2 separate regions of the Homo sapiens genome follow, and region 2 is linked to region 1. The links come from fine-mapping of genetic effects on gene expression. Tissue or cell type: fibroblasts. Region 1 holds a variant in brackets; the other region holds the start of a gene. All regions are shown on one strand. Distances are from middle to middle.

The links. PIP is the estimated chance that this variant, and not a neighbour inherited with it, causes the effect. A credible set is the group of variants that fine-mapping cannot tell apart.
Region 2: it holds the start of HSPA12B, and the variant in region 1 is the best candidate, but not a certain one, in a credible set for the expression of HSPA12B in fibroblasts (GTEx, PIP 0.84).

Annotation. Positions count from the first base shown.
Region 1 is chr20:3,749,899-3,760,817 of GRCh38, reverse strand. It overlaps HSPA12B (heat shock protein family A (Hsp70) member 12B), which reads right to left. Exons shown (of 13, transcript NM_052970.5): 11 at 10,591-10,849; 12 at 9,911-10,014; 13 at 7,707-9,307. The coding sequence ends at 8,652. It overlaps ADISSP (adipose secreted signaling protein), which reads left to right. Exons shown (of 6, transcript NM_001258429.2): 2 at 632-736; 3 at 2,140-2,282; 4 at 5,211-5,349; 5 at 6,299-6,421; 6 at 6,660-7,310. The coding sequence starts at 718. The coding sequence ends at 6,760. Among named protein-coding and RNA genes, the nearest start is that of ADISSP, 12 kb to the left of the region's middle. RefSeq lists a silencer at 10,819-10,919. The variant CCACTGGGCTGGGGG/G (reference allele first, on the strand shown) is at 5,044.
Region 2 is chr20:3,730,678-3,738,296 of GRCh38, reverse strand. HSPA12B (heat shock protein family A (Hsp70) member 12B) reads right to left here and starts at 5,612. Exons shown (of 13, transcript NM_052970.5): 1 at 5,503-5,612. RefSeq lists an enhancer at 4,971-5,550.

The sequences.
Region 1 (10,919 bases):
TGGGGAGCTGAGGCGGAGGCAGGCCTGAGACTCAGGGCAGGGTCTGAATGGGGTTCAGGTGGGGGCACACCCCCTCCACAGGCATCTGTTTTGCATATGGCCCTGACCGATCACCAGGAGGGAAAGCTCTAAGGGCACGCTTACTTTATGTGGTCCCCTGTTCTTGCCCACCATCGAGCACCCTGTTGCCTCTGACCGCACCCAGCTGCATTGCTTGTGTGACCTGAATAAGGTAGCTCCAGGCCCAGCCTTTGGGGTCAGCAGCACCAGAACTGGTCCCTGGAAAATACCAATAAAGTCCTCCTTTCCAGGCTGCCCCTCCTGCCAGTCTCTGGGGGTGCTGGGGATAGGAGTCCTATGCTGTTGCTTTGGCACCTAGAAGCTGCAGCTCAGCACATGCTGGCAGGACCCTGAGTCACTGGGGTATCAGGAAGGGGTGAGGGCTCTTGGTGAATGTGGGCAGTCGGTAGAGGGTGGGCAGAAGCCCCCGTGCTAGAGAGTACAGGCACCACTTGGGCTGCTGAGAGCGGTAGGGGTTTGAGTCCTTCCTAAAGGGAGCTCCTCTGGTGTCCCTGAGCCATGGGTCCATGAGTGGCCCTGACCCCTGCCCTCCCCACTCCCTATCCTTCAGGCTCCCGCTGGTGTCCCTGGAGCATGGGAGGCTGCTGAGCGTGAGTGGCGGTGTCTGGCAGGAGCTGCGTGGCAGGGAGGGCGTCCATGGCTGCAGCCAACAAGGGTAAGTGCCTTCCTGGCGTGGTAGGACTTGCACAAGCTCTTCCGGTGGGCCCTGGTAGGAGGGCCATTGCTGCAGGTAGGGCCCGCACCACCTGTGTGTGTGTGTGTGCATGTGTGAGTGCGTGTGTGCTGGTGTGCGAATGTGATTGGGACTATGTCAGTGTTTGTGCCAGGTTCTGGGGCTCACGCAAGCCCTAGCAGGACCCCTGCAGAGCCCTGCTGACTCCTTAGGCTGGTCTGTGGAGGTGTGTGCTCTTGTGTCCCTGCCGTTCCACTGTGGGGGTTGGGGGAGCCGAGGGGCTTATGGTGAGCACTGAGACTGGTGATGTGGGAGGGCCACAGCAGGCTGTGGAAGGGAGTTTGGGTTTCTTTCAGAGTCCAGAAGGGATAAGGGAGGGTTTTAGGCCAGGGTGATCTGGTGAGATTTGAGGGTTCTGTGGGGCTCACCAGGGATTGTGGATGTGCCAGGCTGGTCCCCTGGGCCTCCGAGTATCCAAGAGGCCGGCTCAAAGCTGGATCAGGTCCTCCCGCCAAGAGGACCCTGGGCAGGGCTCTTGGTGGGAGGGCCTAGGGGCCAGGGGTCAGAGAGGACTAGGGCCGTGCTCTCGGCCTCTACAGCCTGAGCATTCATCCAGTCCAGGCCTTCAGCTCGGCTCCCGCCTACCCTGCCTGTCTCATCCGTCTGCCCTTTCTGGCCTTGGAGAACCCGACCCAGCTCAGAGACAGCTGAGGGCCTTGATGGTGGGCTAGACAGAGGAAGGAAGGGGGTCTTGAGGTGGGTCTGGAAGCTTCCTTGGATTCTCTCTTCTTGCTGCCAGGGGCCAGTGAGGTTTACTGGCAGCTGCAGCCTCGCCCAGGTGGCCTGAGTGTGTTTTTTGATCCCCCCTGTTTCTGCCACCCCAGGCAGATCCCCCAGAGCCTGTTCCTGTCCCTGCCCTTTCAGGTTTGGGTCATGAGGATGGGCAGGCAGGGGCCTCATGCACTGACACAGCTTAGGGGTAGGCCCCAGGGATGGGGAGCTTTGCACTGTGAAGGAGAGCACTGGGCAGGGTATCCAGAGGACTGGGCTGAGTCCCACGCTGCCCTGGCTTGGTGGGAGTCTGGAAGACTGTCCCTTCCTGGCTCTGGCACCAGCCCCACCCCCTCCAAGCAAGGGTCATATTAGCCAGTCCCTGAGTCCCCCCACGCTCACTCTCAGGGGATGGATTTTTGTGGGAGGGGCAGGTCGGGGCCGGCGGGGAGGCCTCAAGCCTCATGATCCTAGTGTCCATCTAGCCCTGAAAAGAGCCCAGCCAGTGGGAGCTGGATGATGTCAAGGGCAGTCTTGGGGGTGACGAGGGGACAAGGGGGAGGAGTTTCCTGGGGACAGGGAAAGCCCTCAGAGCCCTCTCCCACTCTTCCTAGGCAACAAGCCCAGAGTCCGGAGTATCCGCTTTGCGGCAGGCCACGATGCAGAAGGATCCCACAGCCACGTCCACTTTGATGAGAAGCTGCATGACTCGGTGGTCATGGTCACCCAGGAGAGTGACAGCAGCTTTCTGGTCAAGGTACATGCACACCTACCCCATCAGCAGCTTCTTCCCCTCCCCGGCTCTGCCTGGCTTCTGGGTGCCTATCCCCGTTCCTCTCAGCCGGGCTTATAGGCATGTCTGTGCCTTTCCCTGTGCCTTGGTTGCCCCATCTGTCAGATGGGAGGCAGTGAGATTTCAATGAGATGAGAGCATTTAGAATGTCATCCAGATCAAGATGAGCAGAGCCACTGCTGTCATCTGCTTCACCCAGACAATAGCAATGGAAGGCAGTGTCGTGGCTGTGGTGCCAGTGGCCTGAGTTCAGGTCTAGGCCAGCCATTCTGGCTCTGTGACCTTGGGAAGGTCACCTGAGTTTCTTTTCTCTCAAGTGGAGACAATCACATCCCCTAGAGTTGGTGTGAGAATGGAAGAATGTATGTATGTGATACAGGTGTGAAGCTAACTATGGCAATAACAAGGTGCAACTTTTTTTTTAACCCTTCTTTGCCAAATCTCTGGCTCAGTTAGGCTCTTTGAAGTAGTATTATCACCCCCTGTTTTCTGCTTGGTGGAGCTGGATTGGGGAAAATGGAGACTGAGGCCTTCAGGTTGGTCAATAAATCAGGGGTCCAGAGTTGAACAGGAGTGCCCTTGGGTCGGGGGAGGTCTGGCCCATTGAGATGGCCCTGAGTGGGGGGTCTGCTGCGCTGCTCAAAAGGGGCCCAGGTTTAGCCTGGCCAATGGGTCGAAACCCGTCTCTACTAAAAATACAAAAGTTAGCTGAGCGTGGTGGCGCACGCCTGTAGTCCCAGCTACTTGGGAGGCTGAGGCAGAAGAATTGCTTGAACCCAGGAGGCTGAGGTTGCAGTGAGCTGAGATTGTGCCACTGCACTCCAGCCTGGGCAACAGAAAGACTCTGTCTCAAACAAACAAACAAAAAAGAACCTGGGGGGCCCAGGTTTGTATCCATTTCTGTCCAACTCTGAAGTTCCCACTCTTTGTCCTACAGCTGACAGCTTCCCCAAGAGAGTAAATGGAACAAACCAACACTTAAAAATAGCTCTCTCCCCTCATTGCAAAATCCACTCATGTCTTAATAGACATGAGAAAATTTGGAAGACAGAGAAAATATGAAGAAATTTAAAAGTACCCACAGTCATACTATCCCAAAATAACCATGGTTAATATTCTGATGTGTGTTATTTCAGCTTTTTTTTTTCTTTTTGAGACGGAGTCTTGCTGTCTCCAGGCTGGAGTACAGTGGCGCCATCTCAGCTCACTGCAACCTCCAGCTCCCAGGTTCAAGCAATTCTCCTGCCTCAGCCTCCAGAGTAGCTGGGATTACAGGCGCGTGCCACCACTCTCAGCTAATTTTTTATATTTTTAGTAGAGACGGGGTTTCACTCTGTTGGCCAGGATGGTCTCGATCTCCTGACCTCGTGATCCGTCCGTGTCGGCCTCCCAAAGTGCTGGGATTACAGGCGTGAGCCACCACACCTGGCTTATTCCAGCTTTTTAAAATGTTATTTATTTATTTATTTATTTTTCTGAAAACACTATGGTGATGGATCCAGCTTATTTTAAAAAGCTTTGTTTCCAAAAACAAAAGCTGGCCTCACCGTGTCCACACTGGTTTTTGCTTGCTTCTGTTGTGAACTGTCTCCTACCTGTGTCAGTAAATAATTTTCCACGAGATTTTACAACTGCCTACTGGTCCATGATACGTGTCATCATTGACTTAGCTGGCTCCCTGTTCCTGGGTGTTACGGCTGTTTTTGTTTTCATTGTTATAAATAGGGCAGCGAAGAGTATTTTTCTGCACATCTCTATTTCCCCTGGAAAATTCTATAAGTAGTACCCCTGGGTCACAGGGTCACAGTTAGCAGGTACAGCCAGAAAGCCTTCTTGAGGGATGTGCCCCCTACCAGCAGAGCATGAGGGGGGCACATGGATTGAAGTTTGTCATGTAGCAATATCAACCTGGTCCCATTGAATGGCTAAAACTCTCTGCAGCCAGTCCCAGTTGGCCCCCAGGGATGGGGCTGCCCAGCCCCAGTAACTGTGAGCAGGACTCTGTGTGCCCATGCAAGCTGGGAGTACAGCAGGCACCCTTTGCCTGCTGGCGTGGCACCCCCACCAGCCCCCCTGCTCAGCAACCACCCTGGCTTGTGACCCTTCATACTACTGGAGTTTCCAAGAATGGCATTTGTCCCAGAGGGTGGTTGTCACCAAGCACTGTGAATGAACAACAGAAATTGCTTGGGTCGTGAGTATGGGCCATTGGACACAGCCTTTGAGTGGGCAGGCAGGCATCCCCAGTCCAGTGCCAGCAGGGCAGCCAGGAGCCCCAGTTCAGTGGCTGGTGCCAGGCCTGTGGGCCAGCTCTGGGCTGACACAGCTGGTCTACTGTCATATCTCTAATTTGATCCCATCCCTCATCCCACGCTATCTGTGGCCTGGTGTCATCCTATGAGCGAATGGAGGACCAGCATCCCTGACCCTGGGATACTGGCAGTGATGGGGACAGGTGAATGACCCATGGGACTTTGAACTTTCCCTTGTAGGCAGTGGGTGGTGCCTTGCTGGGTGCCATGCATAGCAGGAATGGCCAAGAAGTCTAGGGAGGACTTGACCCTGGCCACACTACATAGCCTTTGGCCAGTCATTTTGTGGTTTCCATTTTCCTGTCTATGAAATGAGCCACTGAGGACTTTGGGGCCCGTGAGACAGATGCTGAGGATCTTGCTGGCCAAGCTGTAGGGCTGGGACCCTCAAGGGGTCTGTGAAAGGGCTGGGG[CCACTGGGCTGGGGG/G]TCGATCAGCTGGAGTGATGGAGGGAGTTGGGCTTTCTGGGCTCTCTGGGGAAGCAGGTGCTGGGGCGCATGGGATCATAGGTGGCACAACTGGGTGGGCCTGCGGGAAGCAGGAAGTGAAGGTGCCTCCCTCCCTCACCTCTCCTGCTGTAGGTTGGCTTCCTGAAGATCCTGCACAGGTATGAGATTACCTTCACTCTGCCCCCAGTGCACAGGCTGAGCAAGGATGTCCGCGAGGCACCTGTCCCCAGCCTGCACCTCAAGCTCCTCAGCGTGGTGCCCGTCCCTGAAGGTGCGTCCCCTCCTCCAGCAGGGCCTGGATGGGTGTGGGAGTGAGAACATGGGGTGCTCCCTTACTTCCAACTAGGGTGGATGGGCAGCTCAGCAAGTCGGGGATGTGGCACCTCTTTGTGAGCTTGCACTGTGGCAGCATGGCAGGTCCCACACTCCAGGCCTTGCTCCCTGTCCTGAACAGAAGTCCATGAGCTCATACTTCCCTGTACCTGCCCATGGTGTGATGGTTACCTCCGTGGGGCAGTAACCAAGATGGGAGCTGCTGAGGAACTGGTTTGAAGCCTCCAGCCTTCCCTCCTGCCTCCCTAACCCTCTAGAAAAACCTGCTGGAGCTACACACACCGTGTGGATAACTCCTAGCACCCACCAGTCCCAGACCTTGGGTTTCAGGCTGCTGTTCCTATCAGGCTCACTTCAGGCCCTGCCCCATGCCCCACTCCCAGCCTGGCAGAGGCTAGGGTGTCAGTTTCGTGGAGCTCCAGCTTCAGTTTCATGTCCCCGTCACCAGCCTCTTCATGACCTTGCCCTTCAATGGATTGACACCCCTCAGGCCTTTACCTCTTGCCATCGGATCTGCTCAAAGCCTACCCTGCCCTGCCCCCCTCACTCCTCATCACCGCCTCTCCCTGCCTTCCTTTTGGGAGAAAACAGCCAGACCTTCTTTTGGAAGCCTGAATTGGACCCTACTTCATTCACTCTTGGAGCCACATTGGGGTGGCCCACAGGCTGGAGGCATGTCCAGCTCACTGAAGAATGGGTTTTTGAGACCTGTGCACCCCTGCTAGGGGGAATGGGTCTCTGGGCTCCAGAAGGGCCATCCCTGCCCCTTTCTTGGGGGGGCTTAGCATGCAGTCCCCCCATGGTGGTGGGTAGGGGCCCGTGAGTGCCAGGGGCAGGATCGGGGAGGCTGGGGGAGGTGCTGACCAATTGCCCCTGTCCCCGGGCAGGTTATAGTGTCAAGTGTGAGTACTCGGCGCACAAAGAGGGCGTCCTCAAAGAGGAGATACTGCTAGCCTGCGAAGGTGGCACTGGCACCTGTGTGCGCGTGACGGTGCAGGCCCGCGTCATGGGTGAGAGCGTGAGGCTCCTGGTTGGAGGAGGGATGCACAAGCTCGACTGCGAGGGTTTCTGTCCTCCTCAGGGAACCAAGGCTGAACAAGGGATCCTTGCCCGGCTCAGGGGTTCTCAACCTCCTTGGCAGGTCCCTACCTCCAGCTGATCCCTGAGGGAAGGGGAGGGGTCCCCTTAGTGGGCCGCATGGGTGGGGCCGGGGGCCAGCATGGCACTGACTTGCACCCTGCCTTGCAGACCGGCACCACGGCACGCCCATGCTGCTGGATGGTGTCAAGTGTGTGGGCGCCGAGCTGGAATACGACTCAGAGCACAGCGACTGGCACGGCTTTGACTGAGGCCCGAGGCCCCGCCTGCCCCGGGCCCCTCAGCCTTAAACCCCGCCTTGTCCCCCCGACATGCTGCGTGATGGTGTGGCTTCCTCGCCCCTCTCTGGGGTGGGTGTGGGGGTGGAGTGGCCTTGCCCACGCCTCTCACCTCTGCCTTCATTTGTGCTGCCACCCTGCCCCTCCCTCGTCCTCCTCTCCCACTTCCTCCTCTCTGTGTGCCTCAGTCTCCTGCCGGAAGAAATGGGTTGAGCCCGAAAGGAGGCTGTCTGAGGAAGGGAGAGGGAGGGCCTGGGGTGGGTCCCCCACTCCCCACCCCAAGCCACAGGGACTCCCACCAGGGTCTGGGAGAGGACGGAGCTGGCTCTGTGGCGTCGTGGCCCCATTACTGCTGCCTTGCTTCAGCCACCTCTCCTGCCCCTCCCTAGTCCCCACTGCTGTCCACCATGAGTAGGAGGGAGGTGCAGTCCCCAGCCCCCACCCCTCAGGTCTGTGTTACTTGGTTTTTAAGCGACTGGTTGGGATAGAACCCTAAAGAAATAAACTTCCAGTGGATACCGGAGGCCAGGTGGATTTTTGTTCTCTGGGGTTGGGGTAATGCCTACTCCTTTGCAGATGGGCCAGGGAAAGACTTGGGTAGACTCACTCAGGAGGCAGGGGCACCGCGTGGTATTATAGCACCTAGCCCCACAAGAGGTATGCACAGGTGGTGGCATTTTAGGCCAGAAGCTGGCTGCCAAGACAATTAATTTGAATGAGGAGAGAGGGACCTCATGTGTAGGCCAGAGAGGTCTTAAGCAGTGGAGTTGTTTGGGATGCTTGATGGGAGACAGCAGCACCCCCTTCTGGTCAGTTCCCTATGCACAGCTGAAAGCTTTCTCCCTTCTCTCTCTAGCACCGGGAACCCTTGCATTCCTCCCACTATTAGGGTCTCCACGCCATATCAGCAGGCTGTGGCTTCCCCTTGAGCATAAATGTTTTATTGTCACCTCAGGGCTCTCAGGCAGGTGGGGCTGTTGCATGCCAGTTAGAGGGAAGTGCCTGACATTTCACACTTTAGGAAACTGAGGCCCATGAGCGGTAAGAGAATGTCCTAAAGGCATACCGAGTCAATAGCAGAGCTGGGACCACCCCTCATTGCTCCCTCTGGCCTCCCCATCCACCCTCCAGCTGCTCTTCCATGGCTGGGGTGGGGTGCAAGTGGGGTCCTTCATAAGCTGACCTTGGGGCCTTCCCAGACGGGTGTTTTGTCTCGAAAGAAATGCTACCCTCATAATTGCCTCCACCACAATAATGTTCCCACCTCCACATTAGAGATCTACTGCCCTTTCCACAATTCACAGTCATATTTGGGTGGTCAGCACCACACCAGGACTGTGCCACCACACCTGTCCCTCTGGAGTCCACTTCCAGTCACTTTCCTACGGCACAGGGTTTTTCTGCCTGGCTCCCGGTTGGGGCTGAGTCGGTCGATGAGTGAACTTCAGCCCTGCAGGTCCAGACCCTGCACAACCTCCTTCCTCCTGCGGCTCCTCCTGCCATCCCACCCCCACCCCTACTCGGCCAAGTTCAGACCAGGACTCTTCTGTTGCGTTCTTCCTTCGGGGTCACATGCCCCTTGCCGGGCTGCGCGCTCTGTCTTGCAAACCTCTTCTCTTACCCGTTCAGTCCTTGGCGGGTCCCTTCAGCCTGGCAGTCAGCGGACCAGTGCCCAATCCCAAAGCCAGTCTCTGGGTGTGTCCCCACCCACTCTCCCATGACCTTATCTCCCCCGGGGCTGGAGGGCGTGGAAAGGCGCAGACTGCAGAACTATCGTTTCCCCCGCCCCAACCCGCTCCGCAGGCCCCTGAACCGAAAGAGGGCGGGGCCGGGCAGACGGCGCTGGCACCGCGCCGGCGCGCCCTCAGTTGGAAAGAAAGTCGATGGACGCGCGCACGGAGCGATTGGTGCTGACGTCGACGGCGGTGACCTTAATTTCGGTGTCGCCAAACTGCATGGCGGCGCGGATCTCGCGGCGGCCGGGAGGCGCGCCGGCGGTGTCCTGGCCGCAGTCGGCGGGCTCAAGCTCGAGGCTGAGCGCGCCGCATTTGCGCACGCCGGGGTCGGTGATGAAGCGCGCATCCTCTGCCGCGCAGCAGTACAGGTTGATGAGTACGCGCCGCTGGCCGGGACGCGCCGGGCAGTAGCTGCGCCGCACCTCCTCGCCCAGGGCCACCGACTGCTCGGCGGCCACGAAGCGCTCGAAGACGTCGGTGCACCAGCGGCGGCCGTCGCGAACCAGCAGCTTTTCGGGCGGGTGGCGCCCAGGCACAAAGCGGTTGAGCACGCCCACGCCATAGGTGAGCGGCGAGCGGCGGACCCGCACCACGCCCGGCGCCTGGCCGAACAGCACCGCGCCTTTGAGGATGGTGAGGCCCACGTCGTGCGGGACCACGACACGCAGACCGCGGGCGCCCAGCGCCGCCTGCACCGCGTGCTGCAGCACCGCTGACTCGGCGAAGCCGCCCACTAGGAACAGCAGCTTCACACCCTGCACCTCCGGCCGTGCCAGCAGGGCCTCTGCGGGACAGGACGGGGGGACGCGGGTGAAGGGGGCAGAGGAGAAGGGGCGGGGGAGAGAGAGCCACTGAGGCCACCACTAGGCGGCCACCGGCGCCTCCCCTCCCTAGCCTGTACCTACCTGGCGACTAGAAAGTAGCCATTTGAGCACTTTCTTTGAGAGCTCACGGGAGTCCTCGAGGGCTTCGCCTCCCCAACACTCACGCTCCCCACTTCTCTCCCACCACGACGTGGAGGACGAGAGATAAGGATATGCATTTTACACGTATTAAACACCTAGACATTGTGTGCAAGACATTGTGCTCACTCTAGGTACTTCAGCTCATTTTATCCCTGTGATAACGTTTTGAGAACCCAATACTATCACCCCATTTTATAAATGGGGAAACTGAGGCACCAGAAGTTTTTTGCCTTGGCAAGACTACATATCAACCCTCTAGCTCTTAATCACCACTGCACTTCATCCCGCAGGTGTTCTAGATGATTCTAGGTCTCATCACAGTGTATGGATGTGTGGAGGTATCTAGGCACTGATGGGGGGGAATTATTCTGCATCTGTTTGTTCATGTAGGGGCGGGTGGGGGACCAAGCTCAGGTGCTCACCTATGTGCTGGATGATCCCGCTGACGGTGGGCTGAAAGAGCTCGTTCATGGCTTCACAAGACATTCGGAGCATCCCCTGTGAGGACCACTTCACGAAGTTCACGCTGTTGGTGGTGAAAGGGGCAAATATCCATCGGTCAGGGCCCAGCTGCTTGCCCCAGTTTGGGGTCCGTGGTCCTTATTCTCTACCTCTGCCTCCAGGCAGAAGTGCCTGGGCACCGACTGCACGTGGTGTCTGGAGGACTGGACCTGCGGGATGTTAGTCCCTTATCTCCACCCTACTCACTCAGAGGATTTAGTTGCCAGCCTGCTCCAGGTTCCAGGTACGAGGTCCTGGGAGGGGCCTCCCCTTGCTTTGGTGCAGGGAAACCGAGGAGCATGGGCCCGCAGGGCCCGGGGTGGGGGTGTAGAGAAGGCTGGGAGGAGATAGGCATTGCCGCCTCCCCGCTATGATTCTCTGTCTTGCCCCAGTTCGGGCTGCGGATTCCGTGGGTGGAGCCTGCTGGGCTGGGGCACTCACTCGCCGCTCCCCGCCGCCCCACCCCGACGCCCTGCTGGCTTAGTGTATATGTGGGATGAATCAGGCAGACCCCCACCGTTCCTTGGGGCCCGGGACCCTCCAGTGCACGGTCATTCCCGGGTCGGCAAACCCTGCCTGAGCCCGCGGGCTCAGGACCCACCTGCTCCTGCGCAGAGCGGTCTCCACGTTGTGGCCCCGCTGCTTGCGGTAGAAGTCAATGAAGGAGAAGGGCAGCGAGATGTTGAGCGCCCCTGCACGGTGTGGGCCAGCAGTGCGCTTGCGAGCCTCGAAGGCGATGGTCAGATCTACCCAGGCTGCCGGCCGTTGCCTTTTGAAGGTGGCGATGAAGTCCTCGCCGAAGATGCGGCACAGCAGCTGCTCGAAGGCCAGGTCCACGCCCACCGCGCCATAAGGGCCCCCTGGGGTGGAGCAGGGGGCGAAGAGGGCGTCAGCGCTCGCCGGGCCGCCAGGGGGCAGTGGCGGGGCCGG
Region 2 (7,619 bases), 21 kb after region 1:
GAGAGACACTGTCCCTGCCCTAGAAACCAACGGTCTGATGGAGGAGATAATCAGGCAAGTGATTTTGAAATGACAAGCGTTGCTGAGTGCTAGGAAGGTCAAAGTTGGATAATGCGGGGTGGGAAGAGGACATGGTAAGTCTGGACAGAGGGCTGGGCTGGGCTTACCCTGCAGGCAGGGCCTGTGCACCCTATTTCAGATTTGATTTTATATGAAGGGCAACAGCAAATCTTGAAAGGTTTGAGGTGGCAGGGTGGGGTGGGGGCATGACTCAATTTGTCTTTTCTTTTTTCTGAGACAGGGTCTCACTCTGTTGCCCAGGCTGGAATGCAGTGGCACGATCTTGGCTCACTGCAACCTCTGCCTCCCAGGTTCAAGCCATTCTCCTACCTCAGCCTCCTCAGTAGCTGGGATTACAGGTGAGTGCCTCCATGCCCAGCTAATTTTTGTATTTTTAGTAGAGACGGGGTTTCGCCGTGTTGGCCAGGCTGTTCTCGAACTCCTGACCTCAGGTGATCCGCCCACCTCGGCCTCTCAAAGTGCTGGGATTACAGGCATGAGCCACCGTGCCTGGCCTTCGTTGTTTGTTTGTTTTGAGATAGGGTGTCACTCTGTCACGAGGAGAACCTACATTTAAAGGCTGAACAGAGGAATATATACCGGCCCAGGAGACTGAGATGCCTCATGGTCTCATGAAGATTGTACCAAGAGATGGGTAAAGCTAGATCCCTGTAAAAGGTCCCCAGATGAGACTGGAAACACTGTTTTAGTGGCCCAAGGGAGGTAAGCTTAGGTGAGGAGTGAGCAAGAGGTGACATGAGCTAGAACTTCTTTTCTTAAGATGGAGTTTCACTCTGTTGCCCAGGCTGGAGTGTAGTGACGCAATCATATTGAGCTAGAATTTCTGAAAAGCTTGGCTGAAATCAGGAATACATGTGAGGGCAGTAGTTGGAGGGCGCTAAAGCTGAAGGGAGGTGAGGAAGAATATTTATTTTCTAAGATGGGAGGGGCTCGATCCTGTCTATGAAGTTCTGGGGCCAGGCTATAGGCAGGATATTTCAAACCATCAACAGCTTTGTTACTCAAAGTGTGGGCTGAGGATCAGCAGCATTGGTATCACCTGGAAGCTTGTTAGAAATGCAGAACCTCAGGCCCCAGCCCAGACCTGCTGAATCAGAACATGTATTTCATATTTATTTATTTATTTATTTATTTATTTATTTATTTATTTATTTATTTTTGAGGCAGAGTCTCACTCTGTCCCCCAGGCTGGAGTGCAGTGGCGTGATCTCAGTTCTCAGCTCACTGCAATCTCCATCTCCTGGGTTCAAGTGATTATCCTGCCTCAGCCTCCCAAGTAGCTGGGGCCACAGGCATGCGCCACCTAATTTGCCTAAAATGCCACCTAAAAATGCCTGGCTAATTTTTGTATTTTTAGTAGAGTCGGGGTTTCACCATATTGGCCAGGCTGGTCTCGAACTCCTGGCCTCAGGTGATCCGCCCGTCTCAGCCTCCCAAAGTGCTGGGATTACAGGCGTAAGCCACCGCGTCTGGCCTATTTTAACAAGATTCCCAGGTGATTCAGGTGCACATTGAAGTTTGAGAAGTGTTGCTCAACAGTGTCTCTCAGCCAGTCTGCAGACCACTGACACTATGTTCTCATTGGTGGGCCTGGCTGCTCCTCTAAACAAAGGAGGAGGCTACGCAGGGCCAATGCATTCCTTCTCTGTCACCAGCGGCCCAATCTGAAAGTTTTGCTATAGAACACAGGCAGACACAGAGCTGGCTCTGGCATGCCCATAGACACATGCACACACCCTTGCTCACACAGTTCACACAAACCAGCCCCATTGTGGACAGACACCTGGACTCCCACACACTCTTGTATGTCCAGGATTCTCCTGCATGGCCAGCACCATGGAGATTTCCAGACACTCTTGCTGTCCTCTGTACCATTGGAGTTGGATGCTCAGGAATCAGAATCAGAAGAAGGATGGGTGCTGGTTGTGGGCATGCATATAGCAGCTGGCTGTTGAGGAGAAAAGGGAAAGCACAGAGAGGGGGAGGGGAGGGTTCTTAGGAGCCAGGGGCAGGAGCCCAGAGCCCAGCTCAGGATGATGGAGTGGGATGCTGAGCTGGGTCCCACCAGCTCATGCGAGCTGATTCTTTCTATCTCTTCCCAATTCTGCATTCAATGACATCACATTGGTAGCTTCAAATCAGTCATGGCTGGGAGTATTTACAAGACAGAAATTGGCAAACACCATAAATCAGGATTTTATCCTTCTTCCAGAGCTGATTGGAAACCATTAACCAGCATACTACTGGATCAAGGTCTCGAGGGAGGAGCTGGCAGCCTTATTTGTATGTTGTTCTGATTCTTCAGCAAACACTTATCGAGATTCTTCATGCCAGGCTCTGTGCTAAGCACTGGGGAACCACTTTGTTGAATGAATGAATGGATTTTCTGGACCGAGGCTATTGTATCTGGAGGAGAAACAACCTAGAACCACCAGAAAAAAAAGACTCTGGGCCGGGCGCCGTGGCTCACTCCTGTAATCCCAGCACTTTCAGAGGCTGAGGCAGGTGGATCACCTGAGGTCAGGAATTCGAGACCAGCCTGGCCAACATGGTGAAACCTTGTCTCTACTAAAAATACAAAAATTAGCCAAGCGTAGTGGCAGACGCCTGTAATTCCAGCTACTCAGGAGGCTGAGGCAGGAGAATCGTTTGAACCTGGGAAGCAGAGGTTGCAGTGAGCCAAGATCGCGCCATTGCACTCCAGCCTGGGCGAGAAGAGTGAGACCCCATCTCAAGAAAAAAAAAAAAAAAAGACTGAGTCCTCGCTCTACACTGGATTCCACATCCAAACCATGGGCCTATACTCTTCCCAGCTATCGGAAGCTTGTCCAGTTATCTACCGTCTCTCATTGTGCGATATGCTGAGTGCCCCTATGCTGGGGTTTCAGGGATGGCAAGAGCCTATTATGGCACCTAGCGTGAGTGCATCATGCCACATCTCTGTGCCTCAGTGCCCTTTCCTGTAGAATGGGTGACACAGAGGGCTTATGTTAACAAGTCCAGATATGCAAGGTATTGATAAAAGCAGGGAGTTGGGCAGGTTTGAGCAGTGTTCTTTCCCTTCATGATGCAGATTCTGAATTTTCTTGTTAGATATTTTGGTCTTACTGAGAATCGCATTCTAGTCATCATGAGTTCTTTAAGGAAGGAGGTAGGAACTAAATCAATCTGTGTTAAGGGCTGGGTGTGGTGGCTCATGCCTGTAATTCTAGCACTTTGGGAGGTCAAAGTGGGTGGATTGCTTGAGCTCAGGAGTTCGAGACCAGCCTGGGCAACAGCAAAACCCCATCTCTACGAAAAATACAAATATTAGCCCAGCGTGGTAGTGCATGCCTAGAGTCCCAGCCACTTTGGACGCTGAGGTGGGAGAATTGCTTGAGCCCGGAAGGTTGAGGCTGCAGTAAGTCATGATCACACCACTGCACTCCAGCCTGGGTGACAGAGTGAGACCCTGTCTCCAAAAAAAAAAAAAAAAAAATTGTGTTAAAGAAGGAGGATCCCACGGATTCCCCGAGAGGTGGAGGTAAGCCAAGAGGTGGCTGACTGCCAAGCGAGCACACACACCCAGGGACACTTAAGGAGAGTGCTGACCACAGAACACGGGACAAGCCCAGCTCCCGAAAGCTAGGTCTGGGCAGAGTCCACAGCTGAAAATGAGGGGAGGCTGAGCCCCGCTTCAGGGGCCTACTAATTTCAGACTGGTGGTGCCTATGGGTTTGAGAGTAATTGAGTGGGACAGTTTGATTTACACAGAAAGGAACTCCATTTCCTGGCTACAAGCACATGCCAAACTCTGGCCCCAGCCTGATCCCTAACCCTGCCCATGGACTGACCCCTAACTCTTGGCTTCATATTGACCTCTAGTCATCAGCTTCACCCTGACCCCTGGCCCTGACTTCTACCCAATAGGCAGGGCCGATTAGTCACTGGGGACCAGGATAGGGTGTGGCCCAGCAGGAACTCACAACCAGAGACTCCCATCCCAGAGTATCCCCTGGTCTTACAATAGCCTAGGACGAACCCTGCCCCCACTCCCGCTCCTTTTTTTGAGACAGGGTCTTGCTCTGTTGCCTAGGCTGGAGTGCAGTGGCACGATCACGGCTCACTGCAGCCTCGACCACCTGGCCTCAAGCGATCCTCCCACTTCATCCTCCCAAAGTGCTGGGATTACAGGCGTGAGCCACCTTGCAGGGGCCCAACCCTTTGCCTGACAGAATCCTCGGAGGATCTCTTCCTGTGTGGGGTGTTTCAGCTGGGCGCTCATGTCCCCAGGAGCACTATGGGAATGCAGTGTTCTGGGTTTCAGGGCTCCACACGATGCCTGTGTAGACAAAGAGCCCACCCAGGTCATTCCAGCTCCCCTCCTCACTAGGACCCTGCCTCTTCCGCCTGCTGCTCTCTGCTCAGCACCCAGCCAGCCCTGTAATGGAACAGGACTCCGTCAGCGGGCTAAGTGAGGCCACAGGCGTTTCTTCCAAGCCACAGACTGGGCCAACCAGGGCCCAAAGCACAGATCAGAAACGGCACCCAAAGGGCTGCCCCACTCTGTTCTGGAGAGGAGCCCTTAAGAAGATGGGACCATGTGTGGCTGAGTGAGGTGGCTGCCCCATCCTGCGCTGGGGCAGGGAGTGACAGAAATGGCCTCCCATGGCCCCTCCCTGTCCTCATCTTTGCTTTCCATACATCCTGCCGCACCCCCTTGGGTCCTCATCATGGGAGCAGCCAGTTCACAAACAACAGAGCCCCTCCCATGCTCTGCCCACAGCCCCCCATTACCCCTCTGGCCTGGGATTCCTGCGCTGCGTCTGCTCTCCGGAGGGTCCCTAGTTTCGTGATCACTCCCTTCCAGTCTCTCTCATCAACACACGCTAACCTCACAGATAGGCTCCACTGCCCTAGCGGGAACCTGGACCCCACCCCACCTGGACCTCAAGCTGGCCCGGAAGACCAGGTCCCAGCCTCAGACCCTGGCACCTGGGCCACTCAGTACTCTGTTGCGCTTCGGGACCACAGGGCCTGGGACCCCTGAGGCACCCCCCAACACACACACATACACTCAACTCCCAGGTTTCCACCTCAGACCTAGGCACCGGGTCCCTCAGTTTGGCTCCCTGGAGCAGGCCCCAGCCCACACCAGTCCTGCCAGCCCCTAAGACACAGGAGTTTCTCCAGCCTAAGCCTCTGAGCAGCTGTGCGAGGGACAGGGGAGGTGGTCCCCCGAAGCCCAGGTGGGAGACCAAGGTCGCTGCCCCAAGTGCCTTCCCGAGCCCGCAGCCACGCTGCAGAGAGGGGCTTGCAGATCTGTCCCCACCAGACAAAGTCTGGAGGTTTTTGGTGGGGTCTCAGCCGACAGCCCGGGACGGCAAACCTCCTCGCCTTTCTCCACTCGGGGCGCCCGGCAGCCCCCGCCCCAGAACTCACCTCCGCCCTCCCGACAGCTCCAGCCCCGTCCAGCCGCCGCGATCCCGGGCCCGCAGCTCGTTGGCCGTGCCCGCTGCGGCGGCCGCAGCCCTCGACGTGCGCCCGGCCCTGAGGCCTCCCGCCTCCTCGCGCCGCCCACCCCGCCCGCCGCCCCCTCCCCCAGGCCGGATGGCCGCGCCGCCTGCGCCGCCGGGTCGGCCCGCGCTCCCGGCCCAGATGTGCGAGGCCGGGGCGGGGCCTGCCTGCGCGGGCCTCCGCCGAGGGGCCCAGCCTGGTCCCGCGTCCAGGGCCCCTCCCTGAGCCCCTCCTGCGCCTCCCCCGCTCCCCTAGCAGCCCAGGGGGTGGGAGAAGGGAGAGGGGGCGGCGGAGGGAGGGGAAGAGGAGTTCCAGACCCTGGTCGGCCTCCTGCGGTCCAGCTGCTGAGGGGCTCCCCCGCCCCGCCCCCACAGGCCCACCTTGGGGCTCAGCCTCGGCCCCTTCAGCGAGGGCCCAACAGCGGAGGGGGAAGGGCCCGCCCTAGACCCCTCCACTTCCCTGCCCCAGACCCCTCCAGTCCCTTGACCCGGAACCCTCTCTCCTCCCACCCCTACTGCCCCTACAGCTTCCCTAGCCCGGTCCTCAGTGGCCAGAAAAGAGGCAGAATTGCGGATGAGGGCAGGCCCTCGGGTCCCCAGGCTAGGCCTAGCTCTGTCTTTGCTCAAGTTCAGACGACGGAGGCGCGGAGTCTCACAGACTGAGGCCCCATGCCCGGCAAGGGGACCACTCCGCACCAGGGGGCACCCAGCCTCTCCTCCGAGGCACACAGCCTTTTTCTTGTCCTAACCGGGGCCCTTCTGGGGATGCTGGGACTTGGCCTCCAGACAGGGGGTTTGTGGGGTGAAGGTCTCTTTCTGGGCTGGGAACCCGTGGCTCATGCCTGTAATCCAGCGCTTTGGGAGTCTGAGGTGGGAGGATGGCTTGAAGCTGGCTGGGCAACAAAGACCAGCCTGGGCAACAAAGGGAGACCCTGTCTCTAAAAAGTTTTAAAAATTAGCCAGGTGTAGTAGCTCACGTCTGTAGTCCTAGGTACTCAGGAGGCTGGGGTGGAGGATTGCTTGAGCCCAAGAGTTTGAGGCTGCAGTAAGTGTGATCACACCACCGCACTCCAGCTTGGGTGACAGAGAGAGAACCTGTCATAAATAAATGAATGAACGGATGAATGAATGAATTTCTGCTAGGTCCCTCGTGGAGCTTTCAAAGGCAGCTGACTCGTTCTGCCTGTTCCCCTTCCCCTCTGCCCCATGTGCCCCCACAGAAGTTCCAGATGCTTCTCAGTCCACCTCCCTTTGTGCCTGGGAAGGCTGCCCGTCAGAGAAGGGCCCCACAGCCCCATCAAATGAGGCACAGTTCTTGGGACATCCCTTTTGCTCTTCCACTCCAAACCTTTGCAAGGGCTATTTTCCCTCCCTGAAATGCTCTCCTTCCTCCTCTCTGCCCAGCCAAAATGCTCCCCAGCTACAGTGTCACCTCCCTAGGCTTGCTGCCTTTCTTCTCAGAGCCACTGCCCCAGAGGGCCTCCTTAATGAGGTCAGGCATGGTGAGTGCGCTGCACCAACAATTCTGGATACCAAGCCAACATGGTATCCAATCAGCAGTCTCCACAGGCCGCCTCCCAGTGTGCGTCTATGTGTGTCCGTCTGTGCATCTGTTGGTGTGTTTGTGTCTGTGCTTAAGTGTGTCTTTGTATGTGTAAGACTTTGCTTATATGTCTGTTCATGTGTGAGTGTGTTTCTTGGATTGTCTGACTGTGTCTGTGTGTGCGCTAGTGTGTGACTGTGTTTCTGTATTACGTGTGTGTGTTGCTGCATCTTGTGTCTTTGTGTCTGTGTGTAACAGGGGTCCTTGGTTGGGGCCTGCAGGCCTGCACCTCGTTTGAGGCTGAGCAGAGCCAGGAGGGATTGGAGTGTGTGTCTGCTGTGCATGTCCTGGGGTCTGCAGGGTCTGGCCCCTCACACTCATGCCTGCCCCTTTTTTCTTTTTCCCTTCCACCTGGTTTCCCTGTCCCCAACTCCAGCTCCAAAGATGGGCTCGTCTCTGAGGGCCACGGCAGCAGGCTCTGAGCAGGGGTGAAGACTCAT